2 separate regions of the Homo sapiens genome follow, and region 1 is linked to region 2. The links come from fine-mapping of genetic effects on gene expression. Tissue or cell type: thyroid. Region 2 holds a variant in brackets; the other region holds the start of a gene. All regions are shown on one strand. Distances are between the middles of the regions.

Region 1 (10,755 bases), 31 kb after region 2:
CTCCTCATCCTCCCTTATAATTTGCTTATAACATGCACATCAAACTTCAAACCTAAGTGAACAAAACACAACCAAAATGCTGTGTTCTCTATCCCTTCAGGCCTGCTCAGTCCCTAGTCTTCCCCTCTCAGTAGATGGCCACTCCTTTCTTCTGATGGCTCAGATCTCAAGACTTAGACTCATCTTTGACGATCTCTTATTTATTTATTTATTTTGAGACAGAGTCTTTCTCTGTCCAGGCTGGAGTGTAGTGGCACAATCTCGGCTCACTGCAACCTCCACGTCCTGGGTTCAAGTGATTCTCCTCCCTCAGTCTCCTGAGTAGCTGGGTCTACAGGTGTGTGCCACCATGCCTGGCTAATTTTTGTATTTTTAGTAGAGTCAGGGTTTTGCCATGTTGGTCAGGCTGGTCTTGAACACCTGATCTCATCTCAAGTGATCCACCTGCCTTGGCCTCCCGAAGTGCTGGGATTACAGACATGAGCCACCATGCCCGGCCTGCCTTCTTTATACCACACATCCAATCCATCAGAAGATCCTCTCAGCATTACTTTCAAATTATATCTAGAATCTAGCCACTTTTTCCCACCTCTACTGCTACTACCAAATTCTAAGCCACCACCACATCTTCTAAGCCTGGGCTGCTCTAACAGTCTCCTAATTGGTTTTGCAGCTTCTAGCCTTGCCTCCCCTCTGACATCCAGTGGAATCTTTCAAAAACTGCAATTAGATGATGTCACACCCCTACGCTAAACCTTCTTAGGCTTGCCATCTTACTTTATGAGTAGAATCTGAAGTCTTTATCAGGGCCTACAAAACCCTGGAAGACCTGATTCCTGCTACCTCTCTGAGCTCAACTCCCAACTCTCTTCCCCTTGTTCACCTCAGGTCTAGCTACACTGGTCTTCCAGCTATTCTTTGTTTTTATTATTATTATTTTTGGGGACGGAGTCTCACACTGTCACCCAGGATGGAGTGCAGTGGTGTAATCTCGGCTCACTGCAACCTCCGCCTACCAGGTTCAAGTGATTTTCCAGCTTCACCCTCCCAAGTAGCTGGGATTACAGGCAGCCACCACCATACCTGGCTAATTTTTGTATTTTTAGTAGAGATGGGCTTTTGCCATGTTGGCCAGTCTGTTCTTGAACTCCTGTCCTCAAGTGATCCACCTGCCTTGGACTCCCAAAGTGCTGGGATATAGGTGTGAGCCACTGCGCCCAGCCTCCTGCTATTCTTTGAACATACCAAGCCCAGTCCTGCGTCAGGGCCCTTGGATTCTGTCCTCTCTGCCTTGTCACTCTTCCTCCAGGTATCTATATGTCTAGTTCTCTCTCTTCCTTCAGGGCTCTACCCAAATTTCACCTTATCAAAAAAAGTATTCCCTGACTATTCTTTCGAAAATAAGCCCTCTCTATCACTATCTCCTTACCATATCTTCTTCCTAGCAGTGATCACACTTTTCTTCCTAGCAGTGATCAAAACTTGACATATTTTACACATATTTGCTTATGTCATGGATTGTTACCCCCATTACTATATAAGTTCAATAAGGACAGAGGCTTTGCATTTTTAGTCACGACTGTATCCCAATTTCCTAGAAGAGTGCCTGATACACAGTAGGTGTTCAACAAATAGATGTTGATGAATGGATTTGTTGAATGGCCTCATCCAGATATCTAGTCATCAGGTGAAGAGAATGGTTTCCAGAAGGTTGTCTAATTGATGTGATAAAAATCAAGTGGGAGGAACTGTGAAATTTACATGGAGATCATCAGATTATGTGTTCTTTTATTACCAGTGACCACTGCAGGATTCATAGATATTCTGTTTGGTCCTTTATGCCAAATCCTATGCCAAACTATAAGGTAGAATGAGACACCCGCCTTTAACTTCTTTAGCATGTCACTTACACTCTGGGACTCAGCGTTTTCATCTGCAAAATAGGCAGCTGGAGATGTGGTCATTGCTCTGCTAGTCTATGGTCTACCAGATGCTGGAGGGAGGCAATACAGTTAGGAGGATCAACCACACAGGCTCTGGAGCTTGACTGCCCATGTCTGAATCCTGTCTCCATTCCCCACAAACCCTATGACCTTGGGCAACTTACTCAGTTCCCTCATTTATAAAGTGGGAATAATAAAAAGATCACAAGAACACAACTCAAAGAGTAATTGTGAGGATTACGTAAGATCATACATGTAAAGTGTGTAGCATATGGGCTGGCACATGGTAAGTGCTCACTAAATGTTAGCTACTAAAAATGAAAAGTTCTGGGAAAATTTTTGAGGGGTCATCGCTATTAATGTGTTTTAGGGGTGACAAACTGTTCTAGAATATTAGATAATATGGGCATTTTAAAAGCATGATAATTGGCTGGGTGCGGTGGCTCATGCCTGTAATCCTGGCATTTTGGGAGACTGAGGTGGGCGGATCACCTGAGCTCAGGAGTTTGAGACCAGCCTGGCCAACATGGTGAAACCCTGTCTCTACTTAAAATACAAAAATTAGCTGGGTATGGTGGTGCGTGCCTGTAATCCCAGCTACTTGGGAGGCTGAAAATCACTTGAACCCAGGAGGCAGAGGTTGTAGTGAGCTGAGATGGTGCCACTGCATTCCAGCCTGGGTGATAGAGCAAGACCCTATCTCAATAAAATAAAATAAAATAAAGCATGAGAATGGTGTTGTGCCTAGTTGGGATAACGCTTTTCTTCTTGGGAGATGCATGGTGAATTGAAGTACTTACAGATAAAATCTCATTGAAGTACTTACAGATAAAACCTCACGATGTCTGTCACCTTATTATTATTATTATTATTATTATTTTTGAGACGGAGTCTCGCTCTGTCACCCAGGCTGGAGTGCAGTGGCGCAATCTCGGCTCACTGCAAGCTCTGCCTCCTGGGTTCATGCCATTCTCCTGCCTCAGCCTCCCCAGTAGCTGGGGAGTAGCTCCCCAGGTGCCCACCACCACGCCCGGCTAATTTTTCTGTATTTTTTAGTGGAGACGGGGTTTCACCGTATTAGCCAGGATGGTCTCAATCTCCTGACCTCATGATCCGCCCACCTCGGCCTCCCAAAGTACTGGGATTACAGGCGTGAGCCACCGCGCCCGGCCACGATATCTGTCACCTTCTGATAATCTAGGCAAATATAGCTCTGTTTTCATATCTATCAATAAAGCAAATGTGGCAAAAAGCAATTGTTGGAGCTAGGTAGATGGCATAGTTTATTGTACTATTCTTTCAACATTTTGGTATGTTTAAAAATGTCAAAATAAAAGGTTGGAGAAAAAACAAAAGGTCCTAGAAACAGTCTAGTGAAATCCAACACTCACATTTTACAGAAAGAGAACCATAAGCTCAGAAAACAAGACAGTTGCTCGAGGTTATACAGCTGGAAAAGCCTGGGCCAGGTCTCTTGGCCGCCAGGTTCTCCCTGTGTGTGGGCTTCAGACTCTCAGGCAGCAGTGAGCTGCAGAGGAGCACACCCCACCACCCCTCAAAGAGACCAAGGGGTATTATGGGTATGTAAAAAGGCACTTGTGTTGGTGTTTCCTTTTTTTTATGTCTATTTTATTTATTTATTTATTTATTTATTTTTTGAGACAGAGTTTCGCTCTTGTCGCCCAGGCTGGAGTGCAATGGTGTGATCTCAGTTCACTGTAACCTTTGCCTCCCGGGTTCAAGCAATTCTCCTGCTTCAGCCTCCTGAGTACCTGGGACTACAGGCGGGTGCCACCATGCCTGGCTAATTTTTTTTTGTATTTTTGGTGGAGATGGGGTTTCAGCATGTTGGCCAGGCTGGTCTTGAACTTCTGCCCTCAGGTGATCCACCCGTCTCGGCCTCCCAAAGTGCTGGGATTACAGGTATGAGCCACTGCTTCCGGCCTTATTTTTATTTTTTTAAGAGACAGGCTCTTGCTCTATTGCCCAGGCTGGAGTACAGTGGCACAATCATGGCTAGCTGCAGCCTTGAACTCTTGGATTCAAGTGATTCTCCTGCCTTAGCCTTCTGAGTAGCTGGGACCACAGGCACACATCACAACGCCCGGCTAATGTTTTCATTTTTTGTGCAGACAGGGTCTTGCCCAGGCTGGTCTTGAACTCCTGGGCTCAAGCAATCCTCCCACCTCAGCCTCCCAAAGTGTTGGGATTACAGGTGTGAGCCACTGCACCTGGTCTCCTTTTTATTAAACAAATAGATCATTTAGTTGGAATTTATGATGTCAAAAGTGCGAAGGTGGCACCAGAGCCAGACCTGCCATCCTTGGAGAGTGAGCATACCGGTTTGGCACCATCTGCTTGTGGTTTTTGAGTGGTGGTGGTAGTGGTGGTGCGTGTATGTAAACTCGGGTTGCAGAGGAGAGAGGGAAGAGTAAAGGGTGGGGACCAGGTCCAGGAAGAGCAGCAAGGAGAGACTGGCTTCAATTCTGGAGCTGCCTGAAAGAAGGGACCCCAGGCTATGGCTGAGAACGAAATGTGGGCACGTATTTAAAGAAAGGAAATGATTCTCTGCGGTCGGCAGGATCTTTGTCTAGCTAGTGGGGTTCCAGGAAGTGCAAAGGAGAGGGGAAAAGAGGGGCCGTCCGTGCAAGCCTGACTGTGTGTATATGGGGGGGGGGCACACAGAGAGGAAAAGGGAGAGAAAGAAAAGAAATTATTCTAAAGAGGAAGCTGGGGGCGGGGCGAGGGAGGGGTAGAGCCGGGGCACTGGGGGTGGCTGGAAAGGTAGAGAGGCCTCACCTGCGGGCCTGCGAGCGGCTCGGGAGCGGTCAGCCTTGCAGGCTGAAGCGTCTTGCCCCGGAAAAATTCCTGCCCCACTGTCCTTCAGGCTGGATGTCCCGGGGGCCACGGAAGCGAGCGCAGAGCTCCGGGGCTCTCACGAGGGGGAGGGCAGGAAGGGGAGGCGGGGCCTCGCGCGGGGCGGTAGCCGAGCCTGTGGCCCGGGCGGGGCTCCTCTCCGGCGGCGCCGGAGTCTGGGGGCCGCGGCTTCCCCCTCCCGGCCAGCGGCGGCTCCTGGCCCCTCCTCCCCCGGCCGCCCCCATCCCCGCCGCCGCCGCCGCCAAAGCTAAACCCGGCCGTTGCCTGCAGGAGCCGCGGCAGCGGGCGATCGGGCCGTGAGGAGCCTCGGGCGCGGCCTCGCCTCCCGGGCCCGGCGCCTGCCTCAGCACAGCGGACAGCGCCGCGCCCCTTGCCTGGACCCAGCCGCCCGCCCGCCCCCGGCCCACCTGAGCCCGGGCCCGCGGCGCCCGCATCAGCACTGCGGACAGCGCCCCGGGCCCCAGCTCGCCGCCACCGCCGCCGCCCACCTGCTCCCGGGGTCAGCACCGCGGAGACCCCCCTCGCCCGGCCCCGCGACAGCCTCCGAGCGCCCCCGGATCATGGCCACCGAGGTAGGGGCGAGCGCCCCACCCGCAGGCAGTGCCCGATTGCCGCGGGACCAAATGCCCTAGGGGTGGGCTGGGCAGGAGTGGGAGGCGGGAGTTGGGGGTGGGATGGGGTGATTCCCCAGGTCAGGTCTGGAGGGAGGAGGTAGGGGCTTAGTGAGGGCTCATCTCCCCCTTGCGTGTCAATCTTCCCCTCGCCCCACCTGAGCCCCCAAGCTGTCCGCGACACTTGTTGGCATTAGCGCCAGGGTTGCTTCAGGGCCCCAGGCTGGGGTTTCCCCTTCCCTGGACTTCACAAGTCCTGAAACCGCTTTCCTAGAGGGTTGGAGACGCGTGTGTGTGCGTGTGTGAGGGGAGGGAAGGCGGCTGTCCGCTGTTGCTATGCAGTCAGCTTCTGAACCCAAAAGCTTGGCTAAGGGATGACAGACTTACCTCTACATCCGCATTTCCTTTGCGGGAGGGAGGGGACAAAGACATCCTCAGGCTGAGAACCCAAATGGTTGGTCTCCACTTTTGCATATCACCCTTCTTGCTTTTTTACCCCATTCGAGTTTTTTTTTTTTTTTTGTCCCAGGGTGTCCAGATTTCCCCTCCATCTGATGGGAGTTTCTGCCTTCTTCAAGGTGCACTGATAGGTGTGTCACCTTCAAGCACTTGAAGGCTGAACCACGGGGCCTGTTAGCTAAGGGCAGAATCTTGGTATAATGCTTGAGGTCGAGGATTCCCCCCTCTACCCCTAGGGATTGCCCTTTCCCCCCTCATTTCAGGAGGGAGATTGGGCTCTTTATGTTCCCACTTTATACATGATAAAGGTGATGTGTGGAAAACGAAAGGACTAATTTGCTACTCCACACAGCATGTCAGCAGCAGAGCGGAAAGTTTTTGCCTTTGAATTTTTGGAGCGAAACTCAGGACATCAGGGTCTCCCCAGTTCTGATGTTGACTTCCTTTGTGGTGTCTCCCCATTTCCAATCCAGCTGGCATACACTGGGGGAGAGCAGAGGCCTGTGAATGATTCAATGCAGTGCTTCTGGGCATCCTGGTGAGCAGTGTGACATTAATACCAAGTGTGGCTGTTGTTATTCCACTCAAGTTTCCACCACAGAACAAGGTGCTGTTGCTTGGCATTGCTTGGCATTCTGACAAGGCACAAGGTTAGCTAGGCGGAGAGTTGCCCCTCAGGACTTGGTGTGAGGGCAAGCCCTGGGCAGACCCTGGGAGCTTGGTTTCTAGAGTAGAGGAATGCAGAGTACTCACAAAGCACCAAAGACATGGAGGACAGCAGGAAGAACAAAGGGAGAAACCAAGGAGTTGGTTACCTTCCAGATAGGGCTGCCAGACTGCAGCAGAGGCTGCTGTGTTGGACAGAAAAGGGGAACTTCAGCTACATGGGCATGGCTGGGCCAGCAGCGTGGGCAGAGAAGGCAGCTGCCTCTGCGATGTGATCTGACAGATTCCAACAGGCCCATCTGTCCCAGGATGTCTGCCATGGCCCACAGATTCCAACCAGCAGGCTTCTATCTCTATGTCAAGACAGCGTTTCCAGGAGGCTGCTATGAGACATGTGTGACTCTCCCCTGGGAGGGGCTCTGCTCATAACGCCTCTGAAAATATTGCGCTTTCCTGTGTACAAAGCACTATCGCATAAGTGATCTCTTTCAAGCCTCAGAGCAGCCCTATGAAGTGGGTAAGGATGGTGTTATTATGCCCAATTAACAGATGAGACAACTAAGGTTCAGAAACTTGCCTGGTCCCTGTGAAGGAGCCAAAGAAGGCATCATTATCCCATTTTACAGATGATGGAACTGAAGTGCTGAGACTTATTCAGGAAAATATGGCTAAAAGGTGGCAGGGATGGGATAAGAACTTGAGTCTTCTGCCTCTTTGGCCAGTGCTTTTTTTTCCTGCATCCAATTAGCCTATTGTGTCACCTGATAGAGAGGAGGGCCCTCCAGGTCTTGATGTGAAGCTTTGGTGGAGAGAGGGATGCAAAGGAAGTCATGAAGGGCTGGAGTGTGGGGACTCAGGCCCCCTGCTTGGCCTGGCTGGGTTGGTTTGAGGGCAGAGGGACAGAGGAAAGTCCCGGAGTGATGGGGAGCTGAGGACAAACATTCCTCACTTCACAATTTGGCCTTGGGTGGACTCTGATGGCAGAACTGAGGCAGGAAGCCTTAGCTCTGCCAGGGCACAGGACCTGCACGTATTCTGGGTTGTGGGGTGAGTCATTCTCCCAAGGCTGTTTTTACTGTTAGAATTGAGTTGAGATTACCAGGATAAACTTGTTGGGAGAGGGAAAACATCGCTTTAAGTTCCCATGATTATTCTGTTAGGATTCTCAATAGGAACTCCTCAGCTCTAGGAGAAGCTGTATTGAGAGAAGGAGAGAGGGAGAGGAAGGGGGTGGGGAGAGGGACAGAGAGGGAGGGGTGAGGGAGAGGGAAGAAATTCATGGGTGGAAACTGGGTCTTTTCTGTTCCCTAATTTCTGTTTAGGAGTTAGCATTAGGGGAGAGGTGTCTGTAAGGAACTCAGAGGAGGGATGGAGCCTCCTGAGTGATACACTGACCTCATTTGGAGAGCTGCAATGAGCCCATTTTCTGAGCAGCAAACCTCTGTGAATGTGTGTCACTGGGAGCAGGGTCTGCCCTGGGAAATAGTCCAGATGGCCAAGGACAACTGGGAAGTGCCTGGCTGGGAGGGGCTTCTCCAAGTGGTGGGGTTTGGTCTCTAAGAGATTTTTAAATGCATCCAAGTAGCGTTATTCAAGCAGGGTGTTTGGAGGTTTGATCTTTGAGGCATGGAATTAATGATGAGTAGACAACTGGGTCAGGCTTGAGCACTGGTACAGGCTGAGAAGAAGGGAGGTCTTGTGGCTGGTGTTTTATCCTTAGGCCTGACCTGGCTGTCTGTGACTCATGATCCTCACTCCTCCTTCACACCCCAGCCAGGAAGCAGAGTGCTGGCATCAGCGGAACCTCCTAATTCTCGATGCCTCACATGCATCCTATGGAATGAGATGGTTTTTAATGAGGATGAAGATGGCGCCAGGGGGGCACTCCTGTTGGACTTGGGCAGACTGGACCAGGAGCTCATTTGCACTCTAGAGCTTGTTCCTCTGCACCCCAGCTAGTTGACTGTCAGGTGAACAGGAGCCAAATGTGTGACCTGTGGTACCCACTCTCCAGGCAGACTCCCCCTCCTTCTCATACTGCAGTTTGAAAATTGGTACCCATGGGTCTCACCACTGATTTTCTTCCTTATGAAATGCTTCTCGGCCCTGTCTTCACTCTGCTGCCAGTGAGCCAGGGGTGGCAATGGGAGAGAGGGGCAGGGTTGAGGAAGGTGAGAAGTGGAGAGAGGCTCAGGTCTCTGGGTCAGTTAAGAACCCCCTGGGAGACACCCAGGGGAAACACAGAAACTGCAGCTTCAGAGAGAGTTGTGCACATATTTTGATATCCTCTGGTAGGATTTCAGAGCATCACGGATCTCTGCTGAAAACCCCACCAGCTTTCTGAAAACTTAGTAGCTGGCCAGTGGCCTGGAGCCTGGCTTAGCTCTTGCCCAAGGGGCCCCAGCCATGGGATTCTTTATTTAGAGGTCTTAAACTAGCAGCTCTAGAAATGAGTCTGGTCCATGGGTGTGCCTTACTTAGTCTGTTGAGTGCTTATACATTTTAAAAATGTATTGGAAATATTCAAAAATCAGAATATTTGATGTTAAAAAGATCTAGATTTCTGGCTTCTTTTGAGACACCAGAAGTGCTGGCAACCTGGGTATACATTCCCACGTGGCAATAGTCATCTGTCTCCTTGAGATGGGGCACCAGTTTTCTAATTAGCCCCAGGCCCCACCTGGCCCACTTATTGCTCAGCCCCTGTAAACATTTGCATTCATAATCCCTGATAAAGCCTCTAGAATGTCAGAGATGAAAGGGGCTTGAGCAATGATGTAGTTCCAGTTTCTTAGTTTCCAGTTGAAGAAATGGAGGTGCAGAGAAGGGAAGACTTTCCCAGGGCCATGTGGCCCAGGGTCAGGTCTCCTGCCCCCAGGTCAGTGGGCCATCTTTCCACTAGGGCTTCCTGGCACTTCACACTCAAGCCACCATGAATGGAGAAAACCAGGAGACCCTGCCTTGCCTTAAATCCGGCTCTTCACCAACTTCAGATGAGTCTGTAATATATGTACTCTATGTAGGTCTGGGAGACTAAGGCTCTGCCATATAAAATGTGTCTGATATCATCCTTTAGCAACTCCTCAGAGTTGCTCCTCCACAAACACTCTCCAGGGAGAGAAGCAGATCTCTGGTCACCCAGAGCCTGGATAGTAGTCTAAGGCTCAGGATATTGTTGGTGCTGAAAAGGGTGTTGACTTATCCTACTCTGGCTACTTGAGAACCTGTGGATCAAAGCCAAGAGGAAATGGGAATTTATTATGTAAGGTAGCACCCCCAAATCTTAATGTATTAATAGCTTAATACAATAGAAGTTTGTATCCTGCTCAGTGAAGTTCCAGGTAAGTGTTCCTGATCAACAGGTATTCCAGGCGGTGATTCAAGGCAGTGATTCAGTGATTCAGGGACCAAGGCTCTTCCCAACTTGTGGTGTCACTATCTTCAACACAGGGCTCCACCAGCCTCCATGAAAGGGGAAAGAGCAGGGAGAAATGGTACATCTTTATGAATCAAGCCTACACATGGCATTCGTCACTTCCTCTCACATTCTACTCAGTCATAGGGACACACCTAACTGCAAGGGAGGCTGGGAATTAATATAGCTGTATGCCTAGGAGGAAGAAGAAATGGCTTGGGTCAGTAGCTAGCCAGTCGCTAGAGACACACGCCTTCAGGACAGCACACAAATATGTGTGTACACATGTGTGCATTCAGGCACAGATTTAACACAATCCCTATCAAATTAGCAACATCGTTTTTCACAGTATTGGAAAAAACAATGCTAAAAAAAGAAAAAACAATGCTAAAGTTCACATGGAACCAAAAGAGAACCTGAATAGCCAAAGCAATCCTATGCAAAGAACAAATCCAGAGGCATCACATTGCCTGACGTCAAATTATACTACAAGGCTATAGTAACCAAAACAGCAGGTTTTGTATGGGTCAGAGGACAGGAAGCTGAGTCCATATCAGAATGGTTTCTTCCCTTTCTTTCCATTCTCACCACTGCTTTTCTCACCACCTCTTTAGTTTTTTCCATGGACTATTAGAAAGAGAATCATCCCTCCAACTGGCCCCTCACCCCAGTCTTGTCCACTTCCCACAAAACTGCTAGAATGAGCCTTCTAGGGGTAGGGGAGTCCATCCTCAAGATTGACTGACTTTCATAAGTTGGTTTTAGAGGGGCAGAGGAAGGCCAT
Region 2 (10,755 bases):
GGATGCTCTGTGGCTTTATGGGAGAAGGCTGGAGGACTCTAAATGTGGTGTTACCTCCTGCCTTCAAGGCTTCTACTGTGAGCAGATTTTCAGTTATGTATTTGCAGTTGAACTTGGCCACCCGCTGGCTGGCTCACTTTGTTAGAAATCAGGACCGTGGCTTATTTGGGAGCAAGGTTCTTATACCTCATTGGCTTTTGTGCCTCTCTTTAAACTTCCCCAAGGAGCAGGTAAGGAGGTCTCCAGCTTCTTGGGTTTGTAGGTATATGTGGGGAGCTTTTCTCTTCCTTTTGTCCATTGCTATTTTCTTTTCTTTTATTATTGAGGTAAAATTTACATACAGTAAAGTCTACAAATTCTTTTTTTTTTTTTCAGATGGAGTCTCTCTCTGTCACCTAGGCTGAAGTGCAGTGGTGCAATCTTAGCTCACTGCAACCTCCGCCTCCCAGGTTCAAGAAATTCTCCTGCCTCAGCCTCCCGAGTAGCAGGGATTACAGGCATGCGCCACCATGCCTGGCTAATTTCTGTATTTTTAGTAGAGATGGGGTTTCACCGTGTTGGCCAGGCTGGTCTCAAACTCCTGACCTCAAATGATCCACCCACCTCAGCCTCCCAAAGTGCTGGGATTACAGACATGAGCCACTGTGTCCGGCCAAGTCCACCAATCTTTACATGTGCTGTACAGTTGATGTATTTTTTCTATATTTGTACATCAGTGCAAGCACCGCTCTAATCAGGATATGGATGGTTTCCATCACTCCAGAGGGTTCCCCATGCCCCCACCCGCTTCCCCCATCAACCCAGCTTGTGCTCACATGCAGCAGCTGCCATTGAACTTCACATGGGGCGGGTATTATATACCATGTGCTTTACATTGTTCCCTTAGGACTTTCACGTCTTTTTCTGATCAGTTTTAAGCAGCCTCTCAGCCCTTCTTCTGATGGGCTGGGCTCCTCCCTCCTGGCACATCACTGGTGACTGTCTACTGTCATCTCCTGAGGTGGCAGAAGCCTCAGATGTACCTCCCTTGGCAGGGTGTGTCCTGGGATATTCCTGCGGGCACCGAGACCAGGCCTTTGCTCCCAGGGGCGGCTCTGTGGCTTTGCTGGCTCTTGCATTGCAGGGCTTGGAGGAGCTGGGAATGGGCTGGGGATGGGGTGCCCTGGGCAAAGGTTTCTGAGAAGTGGCCTGAAGTCAGGCCAAGCTGGGGGGCTTTAGAGAAGGAGTGGATAAAGCTACAGACCCAAGAGAGGTCTGCACAATGGGGGGTGCTCACAGAACACCCACAATGTTAGAAGTGGCAGTTAAGTGTGGGGTGGTGAATTAGGCATTAGCTTGGCCCTCTACTGAGAATGACGGAGGACAGACCCCACCCCTGCTGACAAGGCTGACCTTAGGTGTGGTATGGTGGGAAGTCGCCCTTCCCTACAAAAATATCCCTTTCGCCTGCCTGCCAACACCATGTGTTCACTCACTTGTTCATGTCAGGGGTATTTCCTGGGACCCCGGGGATGCAGGCAGGCAATGTGCTAACGCCAACTGTGTGAGGATGCCCACAGGCAGGGCCTCTCATCCCGCGGGCCCACTTCCTAGACAGGCTGCTAACGGGTGGCCCACAGGCCAGATTGGGACCTTGGATGTGCTGGCTTTGGCTCCCATAGTTTAAAAACCTGGAAATTGCCTATAAAAACTAGATTCCTGACTTCTCCTGACAAATCAGGAGATCTGGCAACCCCAGCCTGCTACACAGCAGCAGGTAGGAGTGGGCACGGCACGCTTTCTCCAGTTTGCTACAGTACCTACCATCCCTCTGGCCTCATACCTGCTGGCCTAGGTATGTACATTTCTGCTACTACAGAAATGTAGATATCTCTGCTAATTTGAATGGATGGGAAGAGTTGGTGAAGGCCTCACAGGAGAGGCAGTGAGGCTTGGTCACCGGTTGGAGGGTGCCTGTCCAAACCTACTCAGGCTCTTCCTCTTGAGGGTGATGCTCTTCTCGGCAGATGCTCTCTGGAGAGGATGATAGTGTGGGGGAGGGGGAATGGGCAGGAGAGCAAGATGCTGAGATATTATCCCACCAAGGCCCAGGGTAGTGGTTCTCAAAGTATGGACTACCTGGATTAGGATCACCTGGGGGTGTTGGTTCAAAATGCAGCCCCACTGCAGCAGAGCCTGGAGGGAAGGTCCCCAGGTGATGCCCTGCTCACTCAAGTATGAGAAAAGGAGGCCGGGGCTTAGCAGGCCATGGGTCTGACACAAACTGTGTTTTCTAGGGCAAGACTGGGGACCCAACTCCTCCTTCTAGTCCCCTGATGGAGTCTTGTTTTGGACACCCTGCTTCCAGGCACAGCTGGGGCCCCCACCAAGCTGAGGGCATGAGAATCATCTTCTCCAGCCTTCTGGCTCCTGCACCTGGAGGAAAGGTCATGCTTGGCCTTGCCAAGTCTTTTCATTTTCCAGAATCTTTGAACTGCCACCCAGGCAGTGGGCCAGCTGTGAGAAATGGGATGGTGGCTGGCTGGCTGGTAAGGGACACCTTGTCTCCTCTTCCCTTTGATGGGTGTGCTTGCCTCTCAGCCAGGTGGCCTGACAGTTGCTGGGCTCTGGCCAGGGGGCTGGAATCATGGCCCTTTGTAGGTAAGGAGGGGCAGGGGTAGGGAGGCACCCTCGTGGTGGCCAGGGCGTACGTAAGGAGGCGCTTATGCTCAGGTTCTTGAAGTGGCCCAGCAAGAGAGCATTTCCTTAATAATGAGGTTCCTGGGGAGCAAAATATGGGAGGCCCTCATTCTCAGGGTGGTGAAGGGCCCACTCCCCACCCACTCCTGCCAGAACTTGAGAATGCGGGCTCCCTAAATGTCCCACTCTCCCAAACTTGTCTGGTCCTGCATCCTGGTTACTGCACTCAGGGAGCCCGAGGGATGTGCTGGGATTGCAGGTGAAGGAGAGGGTGGGGCAGGCAGAGCATTCAGGACCTCTCACACCAGACCATGGCTTCTCAACCCCAGCTGCACACAGGAAGCCCCCGGGAAGCTTTAACATTTCCTGATGCCAGGACCCCATCCCCAGAGATTTGGATTTAATGAATCTGGGGTGCAGCTGGTGTTGGGATTTTTAAAACTCCCCAGGGGATTCTAATGGGCAGCAAACTTTGAAAACCTCTGATCTGGATGGAGCAGGGAGGGTGTTGTTTATGGGTTTTCCTTCCATCTGTTTTAGTTGGAAGCAACAGACCGACAAGCAGGACACAGACTTCTAAGGGTAATGCTGTTTTTTTTTTTCTTTGAGATGGTGTCTCACTCATTCCGATTGTACAGTGGCATAGTCTTGGCTCACTGCAACCTCCGTCTCCCAGGTTCAAGTGTTTCTCCTGCCTCAGCCTCTCGAGTAGCTGGGATTACAGGTGCTCACCACCACGCCTGGCTAATTTTTGTATTTTTAGTAGAGACGGGTTTTCACCATGTTGGCCAGGCTGGTCTCGAACTCCTGAGCTCAGGTGATCTGCCCGCCTTGACCCCCCAAAATGCTGGGATAACAGGAGTGAGCCACCGTGCCCGGCCTGGGTAACACTTTTGCTGGTAACACCAATAGCTGAATGCTGTTGTCAACATTCAACAAGGTGAATGGACTATGAGGAGGACGGAAAGAAGCCTAAGATTCAAGCTCCCAATCTGTGCCACATGCATCATGTTTGCCACTTAACGGTCAGTCCTGGGAGTTTACAGATGAGGAGCTTGAGTCTTGGCCAGGCTAAGGACTTTGCCTGCGCCTCACAGCTGTGGAATTGTAGAGCCTTAAATGAAATTGATGTGTGACAAGGTGCTGGTAGGAATGAAAGTCCTTCCTGTTGCTTTCAGATTGATTTTCTAAATAAAGTATTTCTGGGGTCAGCTGGTGGAGGAGAGGGCTTGGGAAAGAACTGGGCCCCGACTCCTCTCTGCCTGCAAGATAGAGGGTGGGGAGGAGCTGAAGGCTATTTTAGGCCCCGTCCCCCATCAGATTCTGTCGGAATCTGGCCTCAGCCAGCTGCCTCAAGTGATTTTAAGGAAAAATACCTCTCCCTCTGCTTAAAGACAAATAGATCCCTGAACGTAAAGTGAGTTGACTAGTGTGATAAAAACGGGCCTCCTCCTTGCCTCCAAATTCTCTCACACACACACACACACACACACACACACACACACACACGTATGCACACATACACACACTCAGAGTTACCGCAATTCCACCACCTAGGTGATTAGATTGAGCCAGAAAATACTCATGGGAGGGTAAGTGGGGAGACAATTCCATCTGTTACAGCATATTATAGGTTACAGAGTACTTTTATAGGGGGCTGATCCTACATTCTCAGCAGACCTATGCATCCTGCTAGACAGCAAACACCGTGGGGAATATGCCACAGAGGCTTCTGTAGATGCAAAGAGAGAGCATTTAAGGTGAGGCTTGGAAGATGCTGAAAGTTGCTCTTTAATGGGTAACTTTATGCAAAAGAATTGTCCCACTGGCTTCCAAAGCAGTAACAATGCTGTGAGCAGCTTTTTGCTGTGGTGACAAAAGTTCACTTTCTCCTACTGAGAGTGGTTTCTGCATTCTCAGTTGGTTCATGCAGGAGCAGTGGGCCAGGGAAGAGAGCACCAGGGCTGGTTGGATTCCTGCCTGTCCACTTATGGGCTCCCTCACCTTGGGTGAGGGGATTAGCCTCTGAGTCCTGGTTTCCTCCTATGCATGTTGGGGGCTTCTGCTTCTGGCCAAGACAGGGTAGCAGGGACTGGATTTATACTCCTGCCTGAAACAATTTTTAAAAAACAGACAGAACATATGAAATAATGGTTTTCAAGACACTAGACATTAGGCTACAAGATTCAGGGGTCCCACAGAGCTCTATGGTTGTCTCTGCTTACTACCTGGAGAGTGTTTTCGGCCACAACCCAGAGAGGGGGAACTCGGGCCAGGTGGGGAGAAATGGAAGTAAATT[CTGTAAA/C]TGTAAGGTTCTTATACTCGATGTGAAGTGGCACAACATCACTTGAAGGTAAATTGTGAAAAGGTCAAGATGTGTACTATAAACACTAAAGCAACTGCTAAAATAGCAGAGTTACAGCTGCTAAGCCAATAAAGAAGATAAAATGGAATAATCAAAAATAGTCCAAAAGAAGGCAGAAAAGGGGAAAAAAATAGATGGAACAAATAGAAAACAACCTGGGGCTATGCCAGGTTCCCCTGCCTCTCCTCCTTGGAGTCAGGAGGTCCCAGCCCTGCCTCCAAGCCACACTGAACCTTGGTTTTCTCATCTGAAGAATGGGATAGCAGTTCTGACCTCTCAGGGATATCCGAGGGTTCCTCGGGAGTGTGGTGCCTGGTGCAGGATGGCTGCTTTCCCTCTTCTGTCTGCCTGGCCCAGCTCCTGCCTCTGCGCTCCTCTCCCCTCTCTTACTTGGGGGTACTTTTCTCCCTTGGACTGCCCCTGCCTCTCCAAGGCCTTCTGGGAGCCAAGTGGCTTGGCCCTGCCAGTGGGCAGGTTGAAGATTTTTCCTTCAAGACCCTCGAAGGCCAGGTGGTCAGGGGTTGGGGGGCATGAAAGTTGAGTGAGACTAAGCTTTTTGCTTTTGTTTTTGTTTTTATTATTTTTAATGTTTCATTGTGGTTTTTTTTGTTTGTTTGTTTGTTTTTTTTTTTTTTTTTAGATAAAATTCACATAACATACAAGGAACCGTGTTAAAGTGTACAATTCAGTCTGGGTGTGGTGGTCCACACCTCTAATCCCAGCACTTTGGGAGGCCAAGGTGGGAGGATCACTTGAGTCTAGGAGTTTGAAACTAGCCTGGGCAACGTGGTGAAACCCTGTCTCTACAAAAAGTAGAAGAATTAGCTGGGTGTGGTGGTGTGGGAGCTGGGGGTGGGAGGCTGAGATGGGAGGATGGCTTGAGCCTGGGAGGCAGAGGTTGCAGTGAGCCGAGATCACCCCACTGCACTCTGGTCTGGGCAACAGAGTGAGACCCTGTCTCAATAAATAAATAAATAAATAAATAAAAATTATACAATTCAGTGGCATTTAGTATATTCCCAATGTTGTACAACCACCAGTTTCAAAACCACTAGTTTCAAAATTTTTCGTCACTCCAGAAAAACACCCTGTGCCCATTAAGTAATCACTCCTCATTCTCTCCCTCCCCCCAGCCTCTGGTAACCACTCATCTGCTTTCTCCCTTTATGGATTTACCTATTGTGTTCATTTCATTTCAAAGGAATCATAGACTCTGTGGCCTTTTATGTCTGGCTTCCTTCCCTTGGCGTAATGTTTTAAGTTTCATCCATGTTATAGCAAGTGTCAGCACTTTATTTCTTTTTAATAGCTGAGTAATATTCTATTGCATGTACATAACACGATTTGTTTATCCATTCAGCCGTTGATGGACATTGAGTTGTTTCTACCTTTCGGTTACTGTGGATAGTGCTGTGATGAACATTTGTGAACAAGGGGAGTCCCTGTTTTCAGTCATTTCGAGCATATCCAAATGCGTGGAGTTGGTGGGTCATACGGAAATTCTGTTTACCTTTTGCAGAAACTGCCAAACTGCTCTCCACAGTGGCTGTACCTCCTTTTAGTTTTCATATTATATTATTCTAAGTGCAAAGATAAGACAACGCCATAGAAAATTTGGAAATTATGCCTTGAGCAATTTTTTTAAAAAAGTTTTCATTTTAAAAAATCATAAAGTTTATATAAATCCATGCTTATTGTAACAATTCAAAGACATTTCTAGCAGAAAAAAGTCTATCTGCTCCTCCATCACTTTCCCCCTAGCTGATAAATGTTGACCCTTTAGTAAGTATCTTTCCAGACATTTTCCAGGCATTGATAGAGTTTTGGGATTTTTCTTTTTACATGAACTTGTCATACTATCCATATTATTTGCTTTGAAATCTTTCTATGCATTTCTTGTGAATTTCAAGTTGGAAAGACTGTCCCAGAGCCAGGCGGGTGGTCCCTGGAGGAGAGACCCTCAGATCTGTGACCTGTCCTTGCTCTGTTAAAAAAAGTTTGGAAGTCTGGGCCACAGGTATGGACAAAGTTGTCCTTGAGTGGATGGATAAAGAATGTATTATAATTTTCTTTTTGTTATCTGCATATATAAATTCTTTGTAAAATGAGTATGAATTGCTTTTATAATAAGAAAAAAAAGTGGGGAAGAATTGAGGGCCTGCAGTCTTGGTGCCCAGCTTGTACCTTAATTTAGCACTAACTTCATTCCTTCTCATTGCATAATGAGTTGTTTATGTGTTTGCCTCCCTTGAGGGAGGACAGGCTTATTCATCTCCTTGCCCTCCCGACTCCTTCCCTGCTCAGGTCTGAGCCCCATGCCAGGCACACAGCAGGATTGCTGAACCAGCAAGTAGCCCCTGCAGGGTTGTGGTGGAGGCTGCAGAGGAGAGGGTGGGTCCCAAAGACCCCCATATGCCCTCAGCTCAGGCTCCCAAAGGAGAGTGCATAGCCGGGGGAGTCCAGGCCCCCAGGACCAGGCTCCCAGTGGTCACACTCTCTGCAGGGGCACTGGGCCCAGCCTCTGTGGGAAGCTGGGTGTGAGCGCAGGTGCAGTTATTCATGGCAGCCCTGGCCAGAGTACCCATGGCAGGCGGCATCCAGCTGAGGAGTTAATTAGAGCACTGCCAGGAGCAGGAAAGGGGGGCAGGAGGCTTGGAGGCTTGGGCTCCCTTTCCATAGAGATAGAAATAGCTGGGCTCCTGGCGGAGGCGGAGAGCAGTACACACAGGAATGGAGGTGCGAGCAGCCAGCGCCTGGGGCACAGGGTGGGGGTTGTCTTCTTGGGCTTGTCCCGTCATTCTTGTTTGGGAGGGGGAAGGGGAAGGGGCATGTGGTCTGTGGCCCGGAGGGGGCCTGTCCGAGGCCCTTCTTCTCCTTCCTGGGGCCTCCCCATCTGTCTCCCAAGCCTGGCCTGCCCGGGCTCACGGGGGGCATCACAACAGCCCCAGAGCCCTGGCCTCACCTTCCTGCCTCTAGCTTTCCATGAGAAGCAGGCTATGAAGGGGTGGGGTGGGGTTCCAGAGCTCAGGATCATTCTAGCATTTCTAGGGGGTAGTCCCTGGTGGTGCTGGGCAGCTCCGTGCCTGACTCATCTGAAAACACTTTATAAATAACCTGGCAGAGGGACGTGGGCTGTCCACCCCCGTACCCGCCACACTCTGTGAGCAGGTGGCAGCACCGAGGTCCTGAGGGCTTTTGAGATGTCCAGGGCAGGGTTCTGGTCAGAAGCCAGGCCCAGGGGGATGCCGGGAGGGAGTGTTGTCCACCTCTGGTGAATGGCGCTGCGGGGGTTCTGGGCACCATGGAGTCCTCCTCTCAGCTGTGATGTTGTCAGCGCCACAACCTTCGATGGGAGCATTGGGGATTTCTGGCTGGGCAAACTGAGCCACTATGGACTAAAGTTGCTGGGAAACCTGGGATGAGTCACTTCCCTTCTCTGGGAACCCTCATTGGTAAAATGAAAAGGTTGAACTAGGTGAGTACTAAGGTATATTTTTTATTCTCCTTGGTGGGTACAGGTTGGTGTTCCTAAATTAGATACCACAAATATTTACTGAACCCTCATGTCCCTGCACTGTGCTAGGCAGCTCTATGCAATTATTAAAAAAAAATTTTTTTTATTTAGAGATAGTCTTGCTCTGTTGCCAAGGCTGCAGTGCAGTGGTGCGATCTTGGCTCACTGCAGCCTCAACCTCCCAGGCTCAAGCAATCCTTTCATCCCAGCCCCCTGAGTAGCTGGGACTACAGGCGCACACCATTACAGCCGTCTAATTTTAAAAGTTTTTGTAGAGATGTGGTCTCCCTGTGTTGCCTAGGCTGGTCTCAAACTCCTGGCTTCAAGAAATTCTCCCTCCTCAGCCTCCCAAAGTGCTGGGATTATAAATAGGTGAGAGCCACTGCACCTGGCCTTTTTTCTTTTCTTTTTTTCTTGAGACAGAGTCTTGCTCTGTTGCCCAGGCTGGAGTGCAGTGGCACGATCTCAGCTCACTGCCACCTCTGCCTCCCGGGTTCAAGTGATTCTCCTGCCTCAGCCTCTCAAGTAGCTGGCATTACAGTCGCACGCCACCACGTCTGGCTAATTTTTGTATTTTTTTTTTGTTTTAGTAAAAATAGGGCTTTGCCACGTTGGCCATGCAGGTCTCGAATTCCTGACCTCAAGTGATGTACCCACCTCGGCCTCCCAAAGTGCTGGGATTACAGGCATGAGCCACCATGCCCGGCCTCAAATATTTTTTAATAAGGCTCATTTGCTGCTAGTTAGTGCATTGGGTAGGGGCCCATGCCGGTCAGGCCACATCAGGGTCTCAGGCCAGGGCAACAGCTGTATACGTGTCAGTCGTCTGAAGGATTAGCAAGGGAGTGTGGCCACGGCTCAGGCAAAGGCAGAAAACACCTGACACCGAGAGGGAAGGGCACGGTGGGCTCTGATGCTTGTCTGAATTTCCCTCAGCAGCCCCATTCACCAGATGGGCCCTGGGACTCGCTCAAGGTCCCATAGCTGGAAGTGATGGGGGCCCTGGGAGGACCCAGGTGTTCTGATTTCAAGCCCGGTTTCTTGGGAGGAATGCTCATTGTTTCTATATTCTCTATTTGGAAATATCTCAAGTAGACACGATGGCACCAGGAGCAAGAGGCCACTGGGCAGAGAAGGCAGGGTCCTGCGTGTTCCTGATCAGGCCTGCTCTGGTCTCAGGCTGGGGAGGACACTGTGTCCTGGTGCTCGGCGGTGTCTGGCACAGATGGGCGTGTGTGGGTGGGGCAGGAGGAGGAGCAGTTACCCGCAAATGGAGCCTGCGTGCTGGACACGGAGAGTCTCTCCCTTGTCAGGCCTAAGGGGACACCAGGAGCCCCCCGGGCAGGAACAGTATCTGGGCGGCCAGCGGTTGGACACAGGGCTGCAATAGGGTCTGATTTTGTTCCTGAGGAAGAAGAGACATTTGACTGGTCAGCCACAGAGGGCAGACGAGGATTCTGGACGCAGATTTCAGCGTGGCACAGCCTGTGTACTCACTGCTGGGGCACTGCCACCTGTGAGGTGATGAGCTCCCAGTCCCCCGATGAGTGGTCTTCTGTGAGGGTGTGGAGGAGGGGACTCCATGAGGGAAGGGCTGGATTAGGCTGGTGGTCCCCAACATGGCAGCACATCAGAATCCCTGGAGGAGTTTGCTTATGGTACAGATCCCCGAGTCGCCCCCCGAGCCCCCACTAGATAGGACTCCCCAGGGATGAGCTGCACAACCTCCACGTCAGGCCTTCAGAGGCTGGGGCTCCATTTATCCCAGCCTCCCTTACCCACCCCTGAGATACGCTGTTGAGGTTTCAAGCACAGTGCAGCTGCACATGTAGTAGCAGTCCATAGACAGAGAACAAACGGCAACCTCAGGAGACTGCGGATTCAGAGCTTAGTCAGTGGATTTGGTGGCTGCACACAGCTTGGACAATGGCTTCCCTGCAGGCCACTCAAGAGACTGATGTCAGGTGTCATGCCTTTGGGGATTAAGATGCTGAAAGGGTTTTGATATCTTTCAAGGGAAACAGAGCTACAGGGCCTTCAACAAGCTGCTTTGCTCCTGCGGTCAGTCCAGTTCAACAGTAGTCTCTGGCTGGGTGCGGTGGCTCACGCCTGTAATCCCAACACTTTGGGAGGCCGAGGCTGGAGGATTGCTTGAGGCCAGGAGTTCAAGACCAGCCTGGCCAACATGGCAAAACCC

Direction of the effects. Positions count from the first base shown, and alleles are read on the strand shown. Sizes are in standard deviations (SD) of each study's normalised expression.
For the expression in thyroid of the gene that starts at base 4,920 in region 1, allele CTGTAAA in region 2 goes with a lower level than allele C (large effect, 0.77 SD a copy in GTEx).

What was found. PIP is the estimated chance that this variant, and not a neighbour inherited with it, causes the effect.
Region 1: GOLGA7B starts here. The variant in region 2 is fine-mapped to the expression of GOLGA7B in thyroid (GTEx, PIP above 0.99).

What each region holds. Positions count from the first base shown.
Region 1 is chr10:97,844,924-97,855,678 of GRCh38, forward strand. It overlaps GOLGA7B (golgin A7 family member B), which reads left to right and starts at 4,920. Exons shown (of 5, transcript NM_001010917.3): 1 at 4,920-5,392. The coding sequence starts at 5,381. It overlaps GOLGA7B-DT (GOLGA7B divergent transcript), which reads right to left and starts at 4,875. Exons shown (of 3, transcript NR_108035.1): 1 at 4,743-4,875.
Region 2 is chr10:97,814,170-97,824,924 of GRCh38, forward strand. It overlaps LOC107984260 (a long non-coding RNA gene), which reads left to right and starts at 7,728. Exons shown (of 3, transcript XR_001747563.2): 1 at 7,728-8,519. The variant CTGTAAA/C (reference allele first, on the strand shown) is at 4,979.